Linked DNA regions of Homo sapiens. The protein of the gene in region 2 interacts with the protein of the main gene of each other region in a pairwise test. Each region holds a gene or a part of one and is shown on either strand. Other genes may lie near its edges.

Region 1 (2,890 bases), on a different chromosome or scaffold from region 2:
TTTGACACGTGTGGATTATGGAGATTATAGGGATTACAATTCAAGATGAGATTTTGGGTGGGAACACAGCCAAACCATATCAAAGCAGATTATATGAAGAAAAAAAAAAATCCCCTTTTACCTACTTTTTAGTTTATTATATATTTTTGTAGAAACTTATTTTGGTAGAAAAGTTGTTTGGTGCGCATGTCATAGTTACCCGTAAAACCTCACAAATGTTTAAGAAAATAAAATTATAAGCACAGTCTGTTTAAAAGCTAAATTATTTTTTGTCAGAAAAAAAAAAATCTAAGGTATTCATTTCCTCTGTGGCCTGGGTTACAAAGAGTAAATTTATAATCGAATGGAAAAAAAAAAAGTCTCAGAGGGAAAAAAGGTAGTGAATTCTTCAAATAAATAACTGTGCTGTCTTGTGATTTCAAATACAGTGTGCTTGATTCATAATACTATTAAAATATTCATTTCATACTTACGGAATATGAAAAACAGAAAATCCAATATTTGGAAGAAGTGTTTATTCTACGAGCAGATGTCATCCGCAAAGTTTATCAATTTACAATTAGGAAGGATTATGAGCCAAAGAGAAAGTTTTACAAAATAATACAATAAGACTAGCATCCAAATCGCATAGATTTATATGAGTGTGAAAAATAGGGACTCACTTTTTCAATTATGGGAAGCGTAGTGGGGGGAGAAAAGCAATTGTGTTCTGTGATAAATGAGCCTTTCTTAGCTGAGAAATCAGTTGCTTCCCATTTTATGTACTCAATTTGTGCACTTTCTATTCTATGCTCCAAACCATTTCTTTCATCTTATGAATAGAAGAAAATTAGAATTGTACTATTGAGGACATATGAGGAATTTATTCTTGAAATAAATTAACTACAATGATGCATTGTTGCGGTACTTTGATATAAAATCAGAAAGATACTGAGCTTGGAGAAGCATAATATTGTTATCACTTACAACTAAGTTTATTTGGGGGAGGAAAATATCTTGACTGATTCACCAATGTAAATGCACTGAAGGCAGCACACACCTCTGATGCGATTTGATGTGAGTTGTCATGTTAAATCTCAGACCCGGGGTATTATTAGGGTGCATTGCTTGCATCTAACAACCCATGCTCCAAGAAACCACGGTGAGAGCCAAGAAGTGAACCATTTTTTTTATATCCTGCATTTATTTAAGCAAACCAAATGTGTAGAGATAGGAAATTAATGTGTTATAATGTTTTACAAATACAGAGAGAAAACACAGAATATTAAGACCCTGAAGAGAGTGCATTTGAGAACGCAGTTCTATCATAGGAGACCACTTGCAGGGAACACATTAAAGCCATTGCTGACACAGCCATCTGTCATTCCTGGTTTGCCGTCATTTAAGTAGTTTCAATAGATAAATCGGTGATTTGCTTTTAAACAAATATTAATGTTAATGATTAGGGTAGCCTTGAAGGGTTTGTGAGTGACTGTACTATACAATGTGATGCTAGGCTTAATGTGTCATTTCAATGCTGTTGTACATTATGCAGGGGAAATAATGTCTTATTACACATTAACTGCGACATCCACTAAAATGTGAACTAGTTTGCATAGGTTAGTCCTTTGGGCAGCACGATGTTGCTCTAGTCCACCAAGGCTTAAAGATTCACAGTGTAGAGGAAAAAAATATGAATTAAAGCATTTCTACTAAAATATATTTTAATAGCTGGTGTTAACAATTTGCATAACAAAAGCCAAATTATATTAGTAACATTGTAACATTCCGTGAAGCCCCTTCATTTGCAAAACATTCAATGTTTTCTTCAAAACTGTTACACTCTCAAAGTTAGTCTCGCAAATTAATCATCAACCACAATTCTACATATTTTGAAGCAAACAGAAGCCAAACTGTACAATGGTTCAATTTTGATCACAGGTCAAACATCAAGTTTCACACCATGCCTGTAATAGACTTGGTGCTGCTTCCTAAATGCTCAGCAATTCATTGCATGGACACTGGAGAATGGGACTGTGATGCAGTTTTCTCTTTTCCTTTAAAGTACATCATTCTTAACAGCAACTGGATTACAAAGAAGTGATACTATGCAAACTGGATACCATGTATCAAGCACAAAAAATCCTATGGCATTCCCAGGAATATACTGAAGTCATACAGACAACTGAGAAAATTTGCTCAAAGATTCTTCCAAGTTTATGGGTTCAAGTAGTCTAAGCATCACAGAATAATAACCACAGAAGCAACATACAATGCCTTGACTTTTTTGATCAACAGTTGACAGTTAGTTGCGAGGAAAGGGTCCAAAAGGCATGGAATACTTCAGAGACTTTTATTTTAGCATCCTTGTCAGTTTACATAGCTTCTTACTTAACTAAAAGCTCTCCCACCTCCATATCACCTTAACCAAAACAACCACAATCTAGCCACTTTTAGATTATCAGAAGCAAATCGCTAAGGTATAATTAATTTATGAAGTGAAGTTCATCTTGTGTAGTGAATCCAGCCTCACAATTATTCTATCTTACAATAGGCATTTTAAATCCCAAATCTAAAGTTAATGTTTATATAGCTCAACTCTATATAAATCCACAAAGAACCTTTCAGAAATAGATGGAAGAAGTCGGCATTTTCTAAAGTTCTAAATCTTTAGAGATAAAATACAATCAGCTAACACCTTTAATATCTGAGGAGCATCCCACTTCCCTACCACAAAAATATCAATCATGTGTAATAAAATATTACTATAGAATAGGCAGCAACTTGCTTGCTTGGTTTTCTTTCCAAGAGCATACTAGACAAACAAGAGTAATCAAAAAGGCACCTATATTTGTATATATCTGTATTACAGTTTTGGTATATCTTTTATCCACTTTCTATAGGGATGTGT
Region 2 (7,000 bases):
AGCAGTGGTTACTTTGCCGGGTTGGGGGGGAGGTAGGGGCTATCAAACCTCATGATTGGCCGCACACAAAGGTGTGAGTATGTGTATATTTGAGGGTGGGTGGGAGTGGCACTTTCACTAGGCCTCCGTATCACTCTCTGACTGGGGTATCTCCCAGCAAGCGAGACAGAGGCAGACACGCTTCCCAGACTGTCTTACTGGGTCTCTCTGTGTTATTCTCTGCAGTGTCTGTGTGTATCGTGCCATTTTCTATGTTTTGCACCAATCTGCTGTGAGTGTCCTCAGGTGACCTGGGGGCAGGTTTTTAGTGCCTGAGCCTACCCGTCTCCAGGCTTTAGTTTCCCCCTGTAAAAGTATAGGAGTTGGTTCAAGAGAAGGTTCCTCTAGAAGCCTTGAGCCTGTGAACCGTCTAGTCTCCGGGTATTTGTGGGACACACAGAAAAAGCCCCACGACCCAACAGGTAGAACACTGGCTGAAATCAGCAGGGCAGAGCTGAGACAGGCTCAAGTAGGCTGAGGGGTAGGGAGGTTTTGGGTGAATGGGAGGGAGGGACAGAGAGAAGGAGGATATATTGCAGTAGGAGGAGTTGCTGGAACAAAAGGAGGGGTGGTAGGAGTGGCTTGGGGTGGCAGCAGAAGACGCCCTGTCACATGGCGGGAAGTCAGCCTGGGCAGAGGTCTAGGTGTCCAGGAGGGGCTGGGTGTGGTGGCTCACGCCTGTAATCCCAGGACTTTGGGAGGCTGATGCAGGAGGATCACGTGAGGTCAGGAGTTCAAGACCAGCCTGGCCAACATGGCGAAACCCTATCTCTACTAAAAATGCCAAAAATTAGCTGGGTGTGGTGGCAGGCGCCTGTAATCCCAGCTACTCTGGAGGCTGAGGCACAAGAATTGCTTGAACCTGGGAGGTGGAGGTTGCAGGGAGCCGAGATCGCGCCACTCTACTCTAGCCTGGGCAACACAGTGAGACTCTGTCTCAAAAATAATAATAATAGGGGCTGGGCGCGGTGGCTCATGACTGTAATCCCAGCATTTTGGGAGGTGGAGGCGGGTGGATCACCTGAGGTCAGGAGTCCGAGACCAGCCTGGCCAACATGGCAAAACTCCGTCTCTACTAAAAATAGAAAAATTAGCTAGGCATGGTGGTGCAGGCCTGTAATCCAGCTACTCGGGAGGCTGAGAAGCAGGAGAATCACTTGAACCTGGGAGGTGAAGGTTGCAGTGAGATCACCTGGGCGACAGAATGAGACTCCACCTCAAAATAATAATAATAGTAATAATAATAAATGAAAAATTTTAAAATTAAACAATTAAAAATTTTAAATTAAAATTAAACAAATTAGATGCCCAGGAGGATACAGGAGAGCATTTGCCACCAGGCGGACTCCCTGTACCCACCCGGCCACAGGGGGCGATGTTCCTGGGAGACAGGAAATGCCCAGGGGCTGGGAGACCCTCTGCTCTTCTGCTCCCTTCCTGTGTGCTGCCTGGCAATGGGGAACTCTGAGGGCTGGTGAGCAGGGCTGCTGAGGAGTGGGTCTAAGGAGTCCCTGCAGGGCTGGGCCAGCTCCTCCACCTCCCCTTTGTCTTCCCCTCCCACTTGTTATTTTTAGCTACAGTGTCTGTCCCTCTTGCTTCTCCCCCAGATTGGGAGAGGAAACGGAGGCCTCTCCCTCCGGGCCTAGCCTGTTGCCCCCAGCAACCGGGCCCAAACAGGCCTGTGGCCGGCCCTGGCTTCCATATCTGGCATCAGAGTTGGGCTGAGCAGGGTGACTCAGAGGGTGGGTCAGCGCCTGGCCCGGTGCCCACCTAGCCCCTTTGCTGTGCTGGTGCCTTTCTTCCCCAAACAGCCCCAAGGGCCCGGGCCTGCTGCAGCTGGGGAGCCGGACTTCCTTGTCCCACCAGGCACAGCTCTTCAGACCCCTGCCTTGGGTCACATTTGCAAGTGCCAACTCTCATTTCTACCTTATTCTTTTCCTCTCTGTTCCCCTCCCCACCCCCTCTCTTCCCTCTTTCTGAGATCAGATTTGCCAGTGATGGGAAGAGTTAGAAACAGGATGCCCAGCCCTTCTCGCCTCAAGAGGCCACTGGGATGCAGCCACTCCTGTGCTTGGGGAACCTGGAGGATGCAAGGGAAAGGACTGGCACTCTGCTGGCACAGCACCCGGCCTGGGGCAGGACACGGGCGAAGCCAGGGTCTCCCCTGTGAGCACTAGAGGATTTCCCGACCCCTGCCCGGGTATTGTGTGCCTGAGCATGAGTCACCTGAGGGGCCCAGGTTCCCACCCTTCCCAGCTCCTCTGGCCTGCCCCACCCTGTCCTCCCTGCCAACCCAGCACGGGGACGGCACTCAGCGTGTGCTCAGCTTTCCTGATGCCAACCCCCAGTGGAGTGGGCTGCACCACCACCCTGGGACCGAATGCCTGGCTAGGGTCTACTTTGGTCCCTGCTAGGTCTGAGGACCCCTCCTAGGAAGGAAATGGCACTTGGGGGCGGGGGCAGGGAGGAGGGAGGAGAGACACTGGGCTCTACTGTACCCCTAGTCATCTCTTGGGGTGTGCGTGTGGCTCCCTGGCCACAGAGCTCCCAAGGTCTGAGTCATGAGCCCATGGGTGATAGTGGCTTCTTCCCCGCAGATGGGAGCTCCCCGTGCCTAAGAAAACCACAAAGGTTCTTCCTCACTTCCCTCTCTGCTCGTGGTTTTTCTCATCTGCAGGGTGTGTCTTAGTCCTTTAATCTCCTCTCTTTGCAGTGCTAGTCAAAACCTCCACCAGGGAAAGACAAATAACCCCCTTACTGTTTTTTTTTTTTTTTTTTTTTTTTTTTGAGATGGAGTCTCGCTCTGTCACCCATGCTGTAGTGCAGTGGCACAATCTCGGCTCACTGCAACCTCCGCCTCCCAAGTTCAAGTGATCCTCCTACCTCAGCCTCCTCAGTAGCTGGGACTACAGGTGCACACCACCGTACCCAGCTAAATTTTTTTTTTTTTTTTTTGAGATAGAGTCTCACTCTGTCACCCAGGCTGGAGTACAGTGGTACAATCTCAACTCACTACAATCTCCGCCTCCCAGGCTCAAGCAATTCTCGTGTCTCAGCCTCCCAAGTTGCTGGGACTATGGACGTGCACCACCTTGCCCGACTAATTTTTGTATTTTTGATAGAGTCAGAGTTTCACCATGTTGGCAGGCTGGTCTCGAACTCCTGGCCTCAAGTGATCCACCTGCCTTGGCCTCCCAAAGTGCTGGGATTACAGGTGTGAGCCACCACACTCAGCCAGCCCCCTTACTTTCCTTGGAGACCATATACTGTGGCTTGTGCCAAAGTGGTACAGCATGGATTTCCAGCTCCCCTATCTACTTGCTGCGGGACCCTAGATATAGCTTTCTGTGCCTATTTCCTCAATTGCATAGGAATAGCACCTATCGCATAGGGTAGCTGTGAAGATGACGTGAGTTAACATAATATTTAGAGCAGTGCTTGGTACCTAATAAGCTCTATATAAGTGTTTGCTATTATATTATTATTATCACTGCCACCACCGCTTTTGCAAGCAGCAGAAGGTGAAGAGGTTAGACTGAAGAAAAAACTTCTGTGCTCATCAGCCCATAAGCTCGCAGAGCACAGGGATCATGCATCTATGTTTTCCTCAGTCAGTGTCTGCCAGGCACTGGCAAGGAAAGGCTGTTACCAGGGGGAACTCCAGGAATTCCTCCTGGCACCTAAGGAGGCTGGGGAGACAGGACTAGGGAAAAGGTGCCCTTGAGACACCTTCTGAAATCATCCCATTGCCTTCCAGCTTCTTTCAGCTCAGGCTGGCTGGTCAGGGAAACGCTTTGTGCCATAGTGTCTGCCCTCTTCCTCCTCCTGGCTTCTCCATTCTCTCTGGAACTTGTGGCTTAGGAAAGCAGTGAGGTGGAGGAGGAGGAACCCTAGATCAGCAGCTAGAATTGACTGGAATGCTGCTGCTGGCTTTCGGTAATTGACACTGGGCCATTCACCTTCCTCCTTTGCACCTCAGTTTCCTCATCTATAAAAGGGAGAGGGTTGAGCTGAATCAACTCTAAGCTCCTTCTAGTTCTCTAAATTCTGAGAGCCTCCTAGTACAGCCAGCAGCAGCCATTAGCCTTCAGGGTAGAGAGGCCTCTTCTGGGAAGCCCCAGCCAGCCTGGGGGTCAGCCCAAGGAGCTCGGAATCTAAGTTGCCCCAGTTGCTTCACTTTACCAGCGGTTTTTCTTCATTTTCCCTCCTCCCCCTGCAGCTGCTTCAGCTTCGGAAAAGTTCTGAAGTCATGGAAAGTTGGGGCTGTGCTCCCAGCCAGGGGCTAGGCCGGATGGCAGCCAAAACCTGAGCTGGGTTTTGACTTTATTTTTAGCTTTTCTGACTGAGACAGAGGAGGGAATACATTCTCCGGTTCTGGAAGGGGCTCTTTTTTGCAGGAGACAGACACTTACATTAAACAACTTGTTCTGAGGTGTGGCCAGAGGCCTGGACTGAGCAAGTGTGCAGGCTGGGGGAGCTTCCTCTGGCTTCTCATGTCCTTCCCCTGCCCCTCTGAGTGTCACTCTATCCTCCTCCCTGCCTGGTGGGGGGAGGTGGGGGTGACTCCTTTTTTGGACTCTCCTAAGCAGAACACTGCCTGGGTCTCGTCCTCCAGAGCTTCTGCAAATCTAGCCTTCCCTATCCCTCTTCACAGTGAATTGCTGGGCCTCTTGGAGTTTAGGACTTTTGTGGTAGAAGAAAAATGTTGGCAGGGCTGCTTTTCTCCTTTCCAGGATAGATTTTTCCTTCTGCCCACGCTTGGTTTTCCTTTTTTCCATCTGCTGTGGTGGGCTCATGCTTAAGCACTGATGAGTTACAGATGGCAGCTGGAACCAGGTCCTCTGGATCTTTCCCTCCGCTCCCTGGGTCTGCTGCTTTCTCTCACCCTATATTTGTGAAGCAATTGTAACATCTAGAAAGTTCTTGGGTTCTCTGGAGGTTTTTAAGAAAATAGGACCTTTCTATTTCTCCAGTCCACTAGCAAAAATAATCAGGGGCCCAGAAAAGGTGAGGGAGGTGGCAGAGGCAGCGCTGTTCGACTGGTTATAGCTAAAGCTTTACCCACTTTGAGGAGCAGGGAGGCTTAAAGCTGGGGCCCAGATGGACCTGGAGGCCTGGGATCCACATCTGGAACCAGATGCTGAGGCTATGGTAGATGGGTAGGGCTCAGCCTTCTCCCAGGGCACGGATGAGGCAGGAGGGAGGGAGGCAGGGACCCCTCTGTTCAGTGCAGATCAGGGCACCCAGACTGGGTCCTGAGAAAGGAAAGGGTCAATATTGTGCCTGGTCATCCTTGTCTGAGGTCCCTCTGAGCTCTAACCAGACTTTCCTTCCCCACAGTCCCACATGTGTAAAAGGGACTAGGAGAGGTGACCAGTACCTTTGGGGCTCAGATCGAGAAGTGCTAGGGACATGTGGGCCATGAGCTTAGTTGTCAGGCTCCTCAGAGGGAGGGAAGCTTGGCCAAAGGGAAGTGAGTAGAGTCCAGGGAGAAGGCTAAGTAAGGCCCTGTGTGGGAAGGGGCAGGAGACAAAGGTACCCCTGTCTCTTTGGGAAAGAATGGGAGGAGAGAGAGGGAAAAGCATTCATATCACGGGGTAGAGCTCTGCCCTTGGCCCCAGGCACGTTCCTGAGCCCTGAGTCATGGGAAGGGTGGAGAAGCAGGAAGGGGGTTTTCAAGGACCTTGGGGAGGTGGGAGCCCAGCCCCAGAGGCAAGCAGATGCAAACCAACCTAATGCAAGGATGCCCTCTCCTGGTAATTGCAGGCATAGCAGCGCCAGCCCCCATGGCTGACCTCCTGGGAGCCTGGCACTGTCTAGGCACACAGACTCCTTCTCTTAAATCTACTCTCCCCTCTCTTCTTTAGCAATACCAAGAAGGAGGGTGACCTGATAGCTGCTCAGGCTCGGCTGAAGGACCTGGAGGCTCTGCTGAACTCCAAGGAGGCCGCACTGAGCACTGCTCTCAGTGAGAAGCGCACGCTGGAGGGCGAGCTGCATGATCTGCGGGGCCAGGTGGCCAAGGTGAGGCCACCCTGCAGGGCCCACCCATGGCCCCACCTAACACATGTACACTCACTCTTCTACCTAGGCCCTCCCCCATGTGGTGCCTGGTCTGACCTGTCACCTGATTTCAGAGCCATTCACCTGTCCTAGAGTCATTTTACCCACTGAGGTCACATCTTATCCTAATTTGGCTGCCAATGGGATCTACCACAGTGAATTTAAAATAATCCAGGAGGCCGGGCATGGTGGTTCACGCCTGTAATCCCAGCACTTTAGGAGGCCGAGGTGGGCCGATCACGAGGTCAGGAGATCGAGATCATCCTGACTAACATGGTGAAACCCCGTCTCTACTAAAAATACAAAAAATTAGCCTGGCATGGTGGCGGGCGCCTGTAGTCCCAACTACTCGGGAGGCTGAGGCAGGAGAATGGCGTGAGCCTGCGAGGCAGAGCTTGCAGTGAGCTGAGATCATGCCACTGCACTCCAGCCTGGGCAACAGAGTGAGACTCCGTCTCAAAAAAATAATAATAATAATAATAAAAATAATCCAGGCCATGTGTGGTGGCTCATGCCTGTAATCCCAGCATTTTGGGAGGCCAAGGAGGCAGGATTGCTTGAGTCCAGGAGTTTGAGACCAGCCTGGGCAACACAGACCCCATCTCTAGAAAATAAAAATTTAAAGAAATTAGCTGGGCATGGTGGTGTGCACCTATAGTCCCAGCTACTTGGGAGGCTGAGGCAGGAGGATGGCTTGAACCTGAGAGGTCGAGGATACAGTGAGCTGTGATTGCACCACTGCACTTCAGCCTGGGTGACAGAGGGAAACCCTGTCTCTACATAAATAAATACATAAAATAAAATAATCCACAAGCCATTTCTACTTAACTTTGCAATGAACTGTACCTGACCCTAGATCCCTCCCAGTTTGGCCCTCCGGTATACAAGGGCCTCCTAT
Region 3 (7,051 bases), on a different chromosome or scaffold from region 2:
CCTTCGATGAAGAAATGCATGAATGACCAAGATGTATTTCAATCTTACATGAAGAAGAATGAAAACCAGGCCCTTGACTCCAGAGTAGCAAAGGAACCTCAAGCACCACCAAATCACACTGATGTGGTATCTATGGGAGTGGCTTGTGTGTGATTGGGATGCAAAGTAGAATGGGAATTTAGACATGGAAGATATTATTATATTGTAGTGTATTAAAAACCATTTCATGAAAAGAAAATTCAAGGTGAAAAATACATAGTGTCAGAATGTGAAAAACAAACCATAATCACATACCGATGCCTCAGTTTTTTTGTTTTTTTGTTTTTCGTTTCTTTTTGTTTTTTGAAACAGAGTCTCACTCTGTCACCCAGGCTGGAGTGAAATGGCGCGATCTCAGCTCACTGCAACCTCTGCCTCCTGGGTTCAAGTAATTCTCCTGCCTCAGCCTCCTGAGTAGCTGGGACTACAGGCACATGTCACCACGCCCGGCTAATTTTTGTATTTTTAGTAGAGATGGGGTTTCACCATGTTGGCAAAGCTGGTCTCAAACTCCTGACTTTGTGATCCGCCCGCCTCAGCCTCCCAAAGTGCTGGGATTACAGGTGTGAGCCACCATGCCCGGCCTCCTATGCCTCAGTTCTTATCTCACTTGATGAATCAGTAACTCTAGACAATGCTTATGGCACTCTTTCTCCCTCTCTCTCTTATATAAATGTATATATACATATAAATATATAAAGTATATATATAAATGTATATACACACATACACACACACATACACATATATACACACACGCATATACATATAAATGCTGTTCTAGCAAATTAATCAAACTTGAGGAGAGGGTCTTGGGAACCCCTACTTTACAGCTGGTTGGTCAGAAGCTGAGGTGACAACCTGGGACTTGCCACTGGCATCTGAAGTGGGACACAGTCTTGGACTGAGCCCTTAACCGGTGGGATCTGATGCCGTATCAGGTAGATAGGGTCAGAGCTGATTTGAAACAGACGATACCCAGCTGATGTCTGCTGGAGAATTGCCTGGGCTGTGAGAAAACAACCCCTATATATCCAGTGGCATAAATGCTGTGTTGAGTGACTATGTGACAGAGAAAAAAACAGTTTGTCGTTTTTGCCTCAGAAACACAAAATGATCCTCTGACAAGTGATGAAGAAGAATGGGAAGATGTGAAAATCCAAGCAAGAAGAACTTAGGGGAAGCAACTCAACATCTAAGAAGAAATGAATAGGGATCAGTTCCAAGAAGAGATAAAGGGGTATGTATGCTTCTCTGAATTCCTATAAGAAAAAGAGCTCTTGTATCCTAGGGGAGAAGAAGATGTGGCAGCTGTTTCTGTCTCCCTAGACACTTTCACAACTGTCATGCCTTCTCTAAATGACCAGAATGTGACTTCCGCTGCCTTCCCCTCTTGCTGGTTCTCTCTCACTTACCTGGGTGGGCTGGACTGTGGATTTCATCTTCTAGTGTCCATAGTGGTTCTCCTTGTTCCAACTTGGTGAGGGCATCAGGTTTGCCGGCTTGATACCCTGTTTGTGGGAAATGGGAGAAGACTTAGGCTCACTGAATTGCACCACGTGGCTCTGATGATAGGAGAAAGGTACATGTTAGGGACTGCATAATTTGCATGTTAGCAAATTAAAGGCTTTTTTTCTAAGACGAAGGAAGATTATGCCTCTTCCTGTGGGACCAGAGACGGGCCTGAGGATCTGCCATTTGGGAGCACAGCAGACATACCAAAGCTTCCAGAAGCTGAGAAAGCAAAGGCCACTGACTGGGTACCCTCTGAGTGACACAGGGCAGCTGTCCTCACCCACTGACACAAGGTTGCTGTAGTTCTCCAACATCACATCCCGGTACAGGTCCTTCTGAGCAGGGCTCAGGAACTGCCACTCCTCCCAGGTGAAGTCCACAGCCACATCCTCCAGGGTCAGTGATTCCTGTAATAACACAGTCCTGCTTAATATGTTTCTCTTTTATTGACATGGAAGAAATATGAAGTTGTTCGGCCCATTTTCACCACATAAGCTGCACCTGCACAGTTGTCCCTTGGTATACTCAATGGAATGGTTTCAGGATGCCCCACATATACCGAAATTGTGCATACTCATGACCTACAGTTGGCCTAGTGGAATCTGCTTATGTTACTCTGTATAAGCGAGTTTCACATCCTGAGAATACTATATTTTTGATTCAAGTTTGGATATAAGTGGACCCTTGCAGTACAAATTCATGTTCACAAATAAACTGTATTCCTAGTTTTTTAAATATACTGTGAAAGAAGCAAAGTCATAGTAAAATATTCTATATTTTATAATAACCATGCAGCCATCCATTAATCCAACAAATCATAAGTTTCTGTAATATGCAGCCATTAAATCCTCTTGCTAACATGAGAATGTCTGCAGTGTTTTTCAGCACCTACTTGCAACCCTAAACTATATGCTACAGTCATATAGTACGTGCAGAATAATCTAGCATGACCCCCTTCATGTAAACTATACCATGATATTTAGCAAAACAACAAATAAACTATGCAGTGGCCATAAAAAATAAGCCATCATACATGTAAGCATTGACATGCATAGATACATGTATATGTATACAACGCATGTATACACACACATACACACGCATGCAGACATAGATGTCCTCACAGGTAAATCCCTAGAACAGGAAGACAAGCATTTGTTAGTGACATACTAGGGAATTAGGAAAAAAAGTATACAGAGGGGGAACTTTGTTTTCACACTATGTGTACTATTTAACTTGAGTCTTTCACATTGAAAATCTATCCATGAGGCCGGGCATGATGTCTCACGCCTGTAAACCCAGCACTTTGGGAGGCAAAGGTGGGCGGATCACCCGAGGTCAGGAGTTTGAGACCAGCCTGGCTAACATGGCTAAACATGGTCTCTACTAAAAATACAAAAATTAGGTGGGCATGGTGGCACCTAGATGAAGCATGAGAATCGCTTGAACCCAGGATGCAGAGGTTGCAGTGAGCGAAGATCACGCCACTGCACTCCAGCCTGGGCAACAAAGTAAGACTGTCTCAAAAAAAAAAAAAAAAAAAACTATGAATCTGTGGTTCTTTCTGACACCAAATACACAGTGTCTTTTCCAGCAACACTTTCTCTGATGCCAACTGGGTATCCTAGAGTTCGATGCTATGCTAACACTAACCGCTGAGGGTTATCATCAGACTCTGCAGGTTTCAGGGCTCGGTCCCACAAGACTGCCCTCACATCATGTGCCACTCTGGGGTCCCCACGTTATCACACTTCTGTCCAACTTGACCACAACTGGAGGTTGCCACAACCTCCCTGCTCAGGTTCGATAATTTGCTAGAATGACTCACAGAACTCAGGAAAATGTCACACAATTACAGTTTATTATATAGGATACAAATGACAGCCAGGTAAAGAGGTACAGAAGTCAAGGTCCAAAGGGTGCCAAGCACAGGAGCCTCTGATCCCATGGAATTGCAGTGCCCCCTTCCCCCACCCCCCACTTCCACATGTGATCTCCAAACCCCATGGGGGTTTTTATGGAGCTTCTACGACGTGGGCATGATTAAATCATCAACCATGGCTGGGTGCGGTGGCTCACACCTGTAATCCCAACACTTTGGGAGGCCGAGGTGGGCAGATCATGAGGTCAAGAGATCGAGACCATCCTGGCCAAGATATTGAAACCCTGTCTCTACTAAAAAAAAAAAAAAATTAGCTGGGTGTGGTGGTTTGTACCTGTGGTTCCAGCTACTCAGGAGGCTGAGGCAGGAGAATTGCTTGAACCCAGAAGGTGGAGGATGCAGTGAGCCGAGGTTGCACCACTGCACTCCAGCCTGGCAACAGAGCAAGACTCCATCTCATTAAAAAATAAAAAATAAAAAAAAGAAATCATCAACCATTGGTCACAGAATCTGGAGGTCGGGGGTGGGACTGAAAGTCCCAACTCTGTAATCAAGGCTTGGTCTTTCTGGCAACCAGCCCCATCCTGAGGTTGTCTAGGAGCCCATTCTGAGCCACCTCATTACCATAAACTCAGGTGTGGTTGAAAGGCACTGGTTATGAAGAACAAAATACACTCCTATCACTCAGGAAATTCCAAAGGTTTTAGGAGCTCTGTGCCAAGAACCAGAGACAGAGACCAAATATATATACGTGTAAAACCATAATGAGTCATTTGCATAATTTTTTAAGTTAAGGCATTAAAAGAGGTGAGAGGTTAATAACTGGATTTGAACACAGGGAAGGGCTCTGTATTTTCTGAGACAACATGACATTCTAAAGCAAACCCTGTGGATCTCAACAACCCAAGCCATTGCCAAAGAGAACTTTCAACTCCCTTTGGTCAAATCTGTACTTAAACACCAGTTTAGTGACCTGTTCATGGAGCTCCTTTGAAAGCAAACCTTGCATTTTTTAGGCAATTAGGTTTACTCACAGATAAACACAGACTGCAACAAGGTTGGGTATATAGGCCGCAGTGCTGTGAGCTCTGGAAAAACTGTGTTCATTAAACCCTTCTTGGTATAGTCCCATAGAGGACTCAGAATAATCATGTAGAAACAGTCACACAAAACTTGCTTGTGTATCTTTTGGAAAAATGCTGTTAAGGACAAAAAGTCTATCTTGTCACCTCTAGCAAAAAGCATCAAACTAATTTCCCAAGATTTAAGTGCCATGAAATACTGACATCCCCTGAGGAACGGACCCGCTTTCTCCTCAGAATCAGTGCACATCATGTAACTTACCATGATTCTCTGGGTGTGATGGTGGCCAAAGATTTTGGACACAAGCTGACACTTAATGTAGCCAACAGGGTCTGGCAGAGTCGCACATTATATTCCAACACTGGTCACATGTGAACTATGTGAACAAAGTATTTGTGATCCCACTTTGTCCTGGATTAAAGGTACAGTCTAAGTCTGTTTCTCCCCAGAGCTCATTTTTTCCAATTTATACTTTTAATGTAAATGAACTGATTTCTTCAGACTTCCACAAATCCATCAGGGAATCGAGTTAAGAATAAAACAAACCAAAAGTTACCTGGGCCTTTGTCATTTTCTTCTGTTTCAGGAAATACCCAAGAACTGGGATGCTTCGTCTTTGGTTTCTTCTGGATCCTCCCTAAATTTTGGCTAAGAAATCTGAGTCTCCATTTAAGAGTGTTCCCAGAAATGATGACATCCACATCCAGGAACCTCCTCCTTCCTTCATTTGAACTCTCTTGCTTCTGGGGAGCCAGGACCTATGGAGTAAAAATCAAGTTCATTTGGTGACACATTCCCTCCGGGCCCAGATGCTGTCTCTGCTGCTGTAAACTCTCCTGCAGTCAAGGCCAAGCAATATATCTAAGCATCCCTTTGTCAGGTGTCCCCAAGTCTTTACATCCCAGGGCAATAAAACAACACTCTGAATGTGGGGAGTCATATGGCAGTGGGCTTAACCAGGAGCCGGCATATCTGGCCACTTTCCAATGCTTCAAAGGAGTGTCTTTCTCCTTAAGCACAGTGTTTATAAATAAGAGAGCAGGTCACGCTCTGGTCATGAGAACGTGATGGTAATAAGGAGGCTTTCCTCCTCAGAGGCCTCCTGTGATTTTCCAAAACTTATTGTCCCATATTTTTATGGCCAGTTTATGCCAGCACCCCATAAGCCTTTTTCCCAACAATCGTGAGACACACAGAGAAGAAACACACAGGTAAAAGAGAAGGCCATGTGAAGATGGAGGCAGAGACTGGAGTGATGCTGCCACAAGCCAAGGACACCTGAGAGTCTGTTAGAAAAGGGGAGACAGGTGAATGAATGTGGGCAGCTGTGCCGGAGCCCCTCAAGACCACTCCCAGATGCAGTGATTCACTAGGTGAACTCACAACACTCAGTCTATAATTATATTCATGGCAACCACTTATTACTGTGAAAACATACACAGCAAAACCAGCAAAGGTAAAAGGTACATGTGGCAAAGTCTGGAGGAAACCAGACATAAGTTTCAAGTTCAGTCTCTTTGGAGTCACACAGGATACACTTAATTCCCCGAGCCACAAGTCATGACAACACACGTGAAATGCTATAGACCAAGGAAGTTTATTAGAGAGAGATTGTGTGCCATGGTTTTTATTGGGGGCTGATCGTGAAGGTGCTCACTGCCTAACATTCACCAAAACTCCAGAATCCTAGAGGAAAGCATGTGTTCAGGATAAATCACATTGTTTGAAAAAAACAGCTTAGGCACAGTGAGCCACTCTTATTAGGAAATAGTGGGACTGCCTCCAAAAATCTAAGCTCCCAAATGCCAGCTGCTATGGTTTGAATGTTTGTGTCCTCCAAAATTCATGTTGAAACTTAATCTCCAATGCAATGGTATCAAGAGGTGGGCTTTTAGTAAGTGATTAGGTCATGAGGGCTCCTCCCTTGTGAGTGGCATTAAGGCCCTTATAAAAGAGGCTTTGGCCAGGCACAGTGGCTCATGCATGTAATCCCAGCACTTTGGGAGGCTGAGGTGGGAGGATCGCTTGAGGCCAGGAGTTTGAGGCTGCAGTGAGTTGTGATTGCACCACTGCACTCTAGCCTGGGCAACAGAGCAAGACCCTGTCTCTTAAAAATAAAAAAATAAAAAAAAATAAAGGCCGAGCGTGTTGGCTCACACCTGTAATCCCAGTACTTTGGGAGGCCAAGGTGGGCAGATCACTTGAGCTCAGGACTTGGCAACATGGTGAAACCCCATCTCTATAAAACATACAAAAATTATTCAAGCATGGTGGCACATGCCTGTATTCCCAGCTACTCAGATGGCTGCGGCAGGAGGACTGCTTGAGCCTGGGAGGTTGAGAGGTTGAGACTGCAGTGAGTTAGGATGGTGCCACTGCACTGCAGGCTGGGTGACAAAGTGAGACTCTGTATCAAAAAAAAAAAAAAAAAAAAACCTAAAGAAAGAAGAAATAATAATAAAAATAAAAGAGGCTTCACACACAGATCGGCCCTTTCTGCTCTTCTGCCTTCTGCCATGTGAGGGCACCGCA

The links.
Region 1: the proteins of LMNA (region 2) and NEBL interact in binary tests that used the Homo sapiens proteins (3 or more experiments, as listed by UniProt).
Region 3: the proteins of LMNA (region 2) and ZNF649 interact in binary tests that used the Homo sapiens proteins (3 or more experiments, as listed by UniProt).

Annotation. Positions count from the first base shown.
Region 1 is NC_000010.11:20,779,473-20,782,362, forward strand, and holds the end of NEBL (nebulette), read right to left. Parts: 3' UTR 501-2,890; downstream 1-500. UniProt on the Homo sapiens protein: Binds to actin and plays an important role in the assembly of the Z-disk. May functionally link sarcomeric actin to the desmin intermediate filaments in the heart muscle sarcomeres.
Region 2 is NC_000001.11:156,124,711-156,131,710, forward strand, and holds part of LMNA (lamin), read left to right. Parts: intron 1-1,459; exon of another isoform or gene 1,460-1,493; coding exon of another isoform or gene 1,494-1,513; intron 1,514-1,844; exon of another isoform or gene 1,845-1,941; intron 1,942-2,025; exon of another isoform or gene 2,026-2,092; coding exon of another isoform or gene 2,093-2,205; exon of another isoform or gene 2,206-2,239; intron 2,240-5,116; exon of another isoform or gene 5,117-5,139; coding exon of another isoform or gene 5,140-5,198; intron 5,199-5,906; coding exon 5,907-6,063; intron 6,064-7,000.
Region 3 is NC_000019.10:51,895,018-51,902,068, forward strand, and holds part of ZNF649 (zinc finger protein 649), read right to left. Parts: intron 5,448-7,051; exon of another isoform or gene 5,278-5,447; 5' UTR 5,091-5,277; coding exon 5,076-5,090; exon of another isoform or gene 4,784-5,075; coding exon of another isoform or gene 4,781-4,783; intron 1,962-4,780; coding exon 1,835-1,961; intron 1,551-1,834; coding exon 1,455-1,550; intron 1,280-1,454; exon of another isoform or gene 1,144-1,279; intron 1-1,143. UniProt on the Homo sapiens protein: Transcriptional repressor. Regulator of transcriptional factor complexes and may suppress SRE and AP-1 transcription activities mediated by growth factor signaling pathways.